Regions from separate parts of the Homo sapiens genome. Here region 2 is linked to region 1. The links come from fine-mapping of genetic effects on gene expression. A gene starts in region 1. The other region holds a variant in brackets. All regions are shown on one strand. Distances are between the middles of the regions.

Evidence for each region.
Region 2: its variant is fine-mapped to the expression of BRPF3 in whole blood (TOPMed, PIP above 0.99).

What each region holds. Positions count from the first base shown.
Region 1 is chr6:36,195,780-36,198,279 of GRCh38, forward strand. It overlaps BRPF3 (bromodomain and PHD finger containing 3), which reads left to right and starts at 965. Exons shown (of 13, transcript NM_015695.3): 1 at 965-1,191. BRPF3-AS1 (BRPF3 antisense RNA 1) reads right to left here and starts at 1,424. Exons shown (of 3, transcript NR_187147.1): 1 at 258-1,424. RefSeq lists a silencer at 580-1,319 and an enhancer at 1,670-1,719.
Region 2 is chr6:36,238,444-36,241,454 of GRCh38, forward strand. No RefSeq gene overlaps it. Among named protein-coding and RNA genes, the nearest start is that of PNPLA1, 30 kb to the right of the region's middle. RefSeq lists a silencer at 1,389-1,683. The variant A/G (reference allele first, on the strand shown) is at 1,378.

The DNA of each region.
Region 1 (2,500 bases):
TATTTTTTTGTTTTTTTAGATCAAAACAAAAGCCAGTTTGGTCTGATGCTGCCATTTGTCAAGCATCTTTTAGAAAGCCGCCTAATGCATTAAATTAACCAAGTCAGGTTTAAAGTGTTTCCCATGCCCACAGTGACAGACGAGTTACCAGGCATGCTTAAGCAGACTGTCAAACTTTTGTTTACTCCTTTTAAACGGAAAGTCAGATTTTTTTTTTTTTTTTTTAAAAGATGTGTGGTGCGGAACAAGACGCTCACCTGTACACAACAAAGGCAGGTCTTTCCCGGCTGTCCTCACTGGGGGAGGGGATGGACAATCGCTAGACCTTTGTCCTCAGGTCCTGGGCATGGGGGTTAGGGGAGACGCGACTTTCTGGGAGTCGTGCAGGCACCTGCAGTCAAGAAACTACATATTGGTTTTGACCTCAATGACTGCCCTGGCTTAACCTTTGGAGAGGCCCTTTAGTTCGGGGAGGGGGCTTGCTGCTCCAAACCGTAGCCACGTCACCCACAAGGACTGGGGAGGAAATGACTGACCGCTCAAGAGTCAGGGACCCCTGTCTCTCCCAACTAGACCCGAACGTCCACAGCCCTCTTATCGGGCTCGCCCCGTGGCGGGCAGGGCCGTGGTGCGCAGGGATCGCGGCGGGCGCAGACCCGGTCTCTTGCTCGGTGTCCCCGCCGCGCCCGCACCGCCACCGTGAGGCCGAGCCGGGGATGGTGCCCCGTGGCGGCGGCGGCGGCGCCTCCGCGCTCCTCTCCGCACCGCCCCGGCCGCCGCCGCGCCAGGCACGGGCGGGGGGATTTTTTTCCCGTTTCCCCCTCTTTCGCGCTCTCGCTCCTGTTCAGCGGGAGAGCCCGCAGAGTCAGGGAGGGAGCGAGGGAAGGGGTGGAGGTGGCGGGGGGAGGCCGGAGGGGCGGATCCTGCCTGGGGGCTGATCCCTCCCTCCCCTCGGCCGGGCTCCGTGGCGGCAGCGGCAGCAGCGGCGGCTCCATTCCCCCTCCTCCCCCGGGAGCGGCGGCGGCGGCCGGGCCGGGGCCCCAGCGCGGGCCGGGAGGGGGCACGGCGGAGGCCACGGAGGCAGGCGCGGGAGAAGACCGCGCTCCGCTTCCCGGGCCGCGCCGACCTGCTCGGCGGCCTGCCCGCCCGCGCCCAGGGGCCCCGAACGGTGGGGCCGGGCAGGCGGCTGAGGTAATGGGGGCGGCAGCGGGGCCGGACAGAGCGGGGGCGGGGGCATCGGGGCCTTCGGGGACCAGGGACTGCACGGGGGGAAACCGGAGAAGCGGGGGGCTTTCCGAGCAGGGCGGGGGCGGTGCGAAAGCTCTCTCCTGGAGCGAGGGCGGCGGCAGGGAAGGAGAAGGCGGGTGAGCGGGGGAGCTGAGAAGCGAGGACCCCCTCCCGCAGCCGCCATCTTGTCTCCCCCCCCAGCCCTGGATTCCGAGCCGCTAAGCCCCGCCCCCGCCACGCCTTCCAATTGGCCTGGCCAGACGAGAGTCCCGCCCCTTGAGCGGCCCTAGGTCCCCTGGGTCCCTCTGACGGGCAGGTGACGCAGCCAATGGGTTCTCGCCTCTCCGCCCCGCTCATTCGCTGGCGCTCGCTTTCTCTGTCTGAGGGTCGGACTCCACGTCAGGCTGTCTCTGGTGCGCTCGCCCCTCCCCTCTGAGGAGATGTTATTTCCCTCCTTTCTTCTCCGAGGGGTCAAGATTCTTCTGGAAGAGGTGCCCCCTTAAAGGAGCAGGAGCCTTGGCTGGGGTCCTCCTTGTCTCCTGAGTATCTTGTGTGAGGTGCAGGGGATACAGTCTAATTGCAGAAGCTCCTCATTCTTCGGGGACCTGGATGGGGTGGGTGAGCGAGGGGTCAGGGGGTGCCGAGGGGAAATCTGGGGGGGCGGGGGTTGTTGGAGATATTTTGGAGGTGTGTATGTGGGAAGGGCTGTGTAGGTTGAGAAACTCCCGCCAAAAAACTCGTCTAGACTGTAAGCTCCTTGTGGGCGAAACTCTTTTCATTTCCCTCATCAGCAGTCCCTTCCCCCTCTAGAGTTTCTCCCCGGTGTCTGGAGGCGTGGGTGGGACAAAACACGTCTGTGTAGAGTCTTGCATGGTCGAGAGATGCTTGAGCAGCCGAGGAGGTGGCAGGTGGGGAAGGAGAAGATGGAGCGGCTTTCATGAAAGTGGGCGCCGCACCGCCTGTCTGCGCTGTTTGGGGTCGGTGTGGAGGCAGATGTTCTCACCTCTTCTAGGGCCTCGGTGCCTTTGGAGGGGTGGGTGATGAAGCAGGTCTGTTGGCCCTGTCTGCCCCCAGGGACTTGGCATTTGTAAGGAATCCAGTAGCCAAGGGCCTCTGGAACCCGGACAGAATTGCTGCGATGATTCTGTTTCCTTTGGCTCCAAATGGGGTGTGTGCCAGCCCGCCTGGCACTGCTCCTCAGCCAAATTGGTTTTTTGTTTGTTTCAGTCACACTTTGGGATTGGAAGGCCTTTCAAGTAAAGATGTTAATAAT
Region 2 (3,011 bases), 43 kb after region 1:
ACCTGAGACTTGGTAATTTATAAAGAAAAGAGGTTTAATTGGCTCACGGTTCTGCAGACTGTATAGGAAGCATGGCTGGGGAGGCCTCAGGAAACATAGAATCATGGCGGAAGGGGAAGGCGAAGCAGGCACATCTTACATGGCCAAAGCAGGAGGAAGGGAGCAAAGTGGGAGGTGCTACACACTTTAAAATAACCAGATCTGAGAACTCACTATCGTGAGAACAGTAAGGGGGAAATCTGCCCCCATGATCCAGTCACCTCCCACCCGGCCCCTCCTCTAACACTGGGAATTAAAATTCAATATGAGATTTGGGTGGGGACACATATCCAAGCCGTATCAGAGTATAGTTGCTTCACATCTGTGCCAACACACAGTACTGCTGGTCCATGATGTTTGCTCCAGACCTGCTTGTTGAATGACTTCCATTAAGCTCCACTGTGCAGCCAGGCTTCTGTTATCCTTTACAGCACTTTCTGGCTTTAGAGGGAGAATTATGAACTGCCAAGGTGCTTTTCAACTGGGGAACCCTGATTGAGAGGATGGTGAGGGGGGAGAGCTCCCTGGAGTGGATTTGCTGCTGATCCTGTCCTGGACTCCAGGGCATGTATGCACCTGGCTGTGCAGCCCAGGCCTCTCTTGGCACCCACTTCTGTACTATGGTGCCACCCAGATCCCTGCATGGGCTGTTTGGGAGATAGGGTCACACTGGGCAGTCCTTTTTAGTTCAGAGTAACACTACCTTTCCCACCTCATCCTCCTCATCACTGTCATTGGGCTCTGAGGGACCCACTTTTGCTCGAGGATTGCTTTTTTACTTTCTGTTTTTGTTTTCTTGAGATAGGGTCTCACTCTGTTGCCCAGGCTGGAGTGCAGTGGCTCGATCACAGCTCACTGCAATCTCTGCCTCCTGGGGCTCAAGCGATTCTCCCCCCTCAGCCTCCCAAATAGCTGGGACCATAGGTGTGTGCACCACCATGCCCGACTAGACTAATTTTGGTATTTTTTGTAGAGATGGGGTTTCGCCATGTTGCTCAGGCTGGTCACAAACTCCTGGGCTCAAGGGATCCGCTGGCCTTGGCTTCCCAAAGTGCTGGGATTATAGGCGTGAGCCACTGTGCCCGGTCTGAGGGACCCACTTTTGAATACAGACCCCAGCCTGTGTCCTGAGGTGTTATGGTTACCGGTGGGGCAGAAGGGACCCCTGCATATTGCACCCATTTTGTCCTTGTCCACTGGCTGTTGCCCAAAATTCTACCCTTAGTGCTTTATGCTTTTACCTCTCAAGGGCATGATACTTAGGGACTTGGCAGTGACCCTGGTTAGAGTGGGCCTGTTTTCCTTTAAATGACCGGTATCCCAGTGTGAACAAAGGAT[A/G]TGTGAGCAGGTTTTGATAAGGCAATACAGCAAGGACACTGAGTCCTTGAGGGGAAGGTTTAAAAGGAGATGAAAAGGGCCTACTTGCTGTTGGCTGACCTTGGTGCCACAGACGCACATTTCAGAGTCATCAAGGATGAAGGCTCAGAAGACTCTGAAGCAACTTCAAAGGAATCGCTTGGATCACAGGTGGGGTGAAGGTTGGAGATAAGAAGGCAGGGCCAGGGAAAGAGACCCAAGGGAGCCTCGTTTGGAAGCAAAGCTCTGGAAACAAAAGACTGCAGAGCCAGGGTCAACCTGGGCAACTGTTTGAAGCCAGCCCCGTCCTCAGGTGCAAGAAAGAGCATTCTCTGGGTCTAAGCCTGAGTTGTGCGCGGAGGACACAGGCTTTCCTGGGCAGGACTGCAGGCTTCTGGCTCCACTCGTGCCTGTGGCACACACAGGTTTTGATAGCCAGAGCCTGGCCAGTCCTCCTCTTTCTGCTCCCTGTCCCTCCTGGGACCAGGACTTGGCCTCTCCCCTCCACCCTCCCTTCTCTTCCTCCTTCCCTTCTTTGTCTCCTTCTCCTTAAATTTTGTGATTTTTAATTTCAATTGATTTATTGCCCCTCCTTGTCCCCAGCCTCCCAGTTCTCCTCCCCAGAGGAAACCAGTTTCACCAGTTGCATGTGTAAGTTTCCAGAGACACTTTAATCTATGCACATGAGTGATGTGTGTGTCCACTTTTTCTATACAAATGGTAGCATACTTTTTATAGTGTTCTAGGCCTCATTTAAAATTTTAAAATTAAATATTGAGTAGATACAAAAATAGTAGTTATAGAATATATATACATTTTAAAGACACCCACAATACAATAGACCAGTATGGGTACCCACGCCCTGTTTTAGACAAAGAAGCTGGGCTTTTGAAACCATGTGCCTCTCTCCAGCCCCACCCTCCTCTTCCCCTAAATACTATCATGAATTTTACGCTTATCCTGCCCTTTTTGTCTTTTTATAATCCTACTACTTGTTTATAATAGATTATGATAAATATACTATATTTTTATACTAAGATAAATGTAATAAACATTATATATAACAAGACATAAATATATATAATAATTGAATATGGTATACTACCTTTTTGGGATTATGAATAGAATAGTTTTCTATGGCTGGCTTTTGTCCCACCCATAATTATAGTTCTGAAGTTCAGTGTACTGATACGCATGTCCGGAGTTAGTTCATTTTCACTCTTGTATAGAATTCCATTGCATGGAGATAGTATGATTATTTTCATTGGACTATTTTATTTATTAATAATAATTATTATTGTTTTCTAATTTAATTTTATTTTTTGAGACAGGGTCTCATTCTGTTGCCCAGGCTGGAGTGCAGTGGTGCAATCATGGCTCACTGCAGCCTCAACCTCCAGGGCTCAAGAAACGATCCTCCTACCTCAGCCTCCCAATTAGCTGGGACTACAAGCATGAGCCATCACACCTGGCTAATTTTTAAAACTTCTTTTATAGAGACAAGGTCTCACTATGTTGCCCAGGCTGGTCTTGAACTCTCAACCTCAATAATCCTCCGGCCTCAGGCTCCCAAAGGGTGGCTCATGCCTGCTGGGATTACAGGCATGAGCCACTGT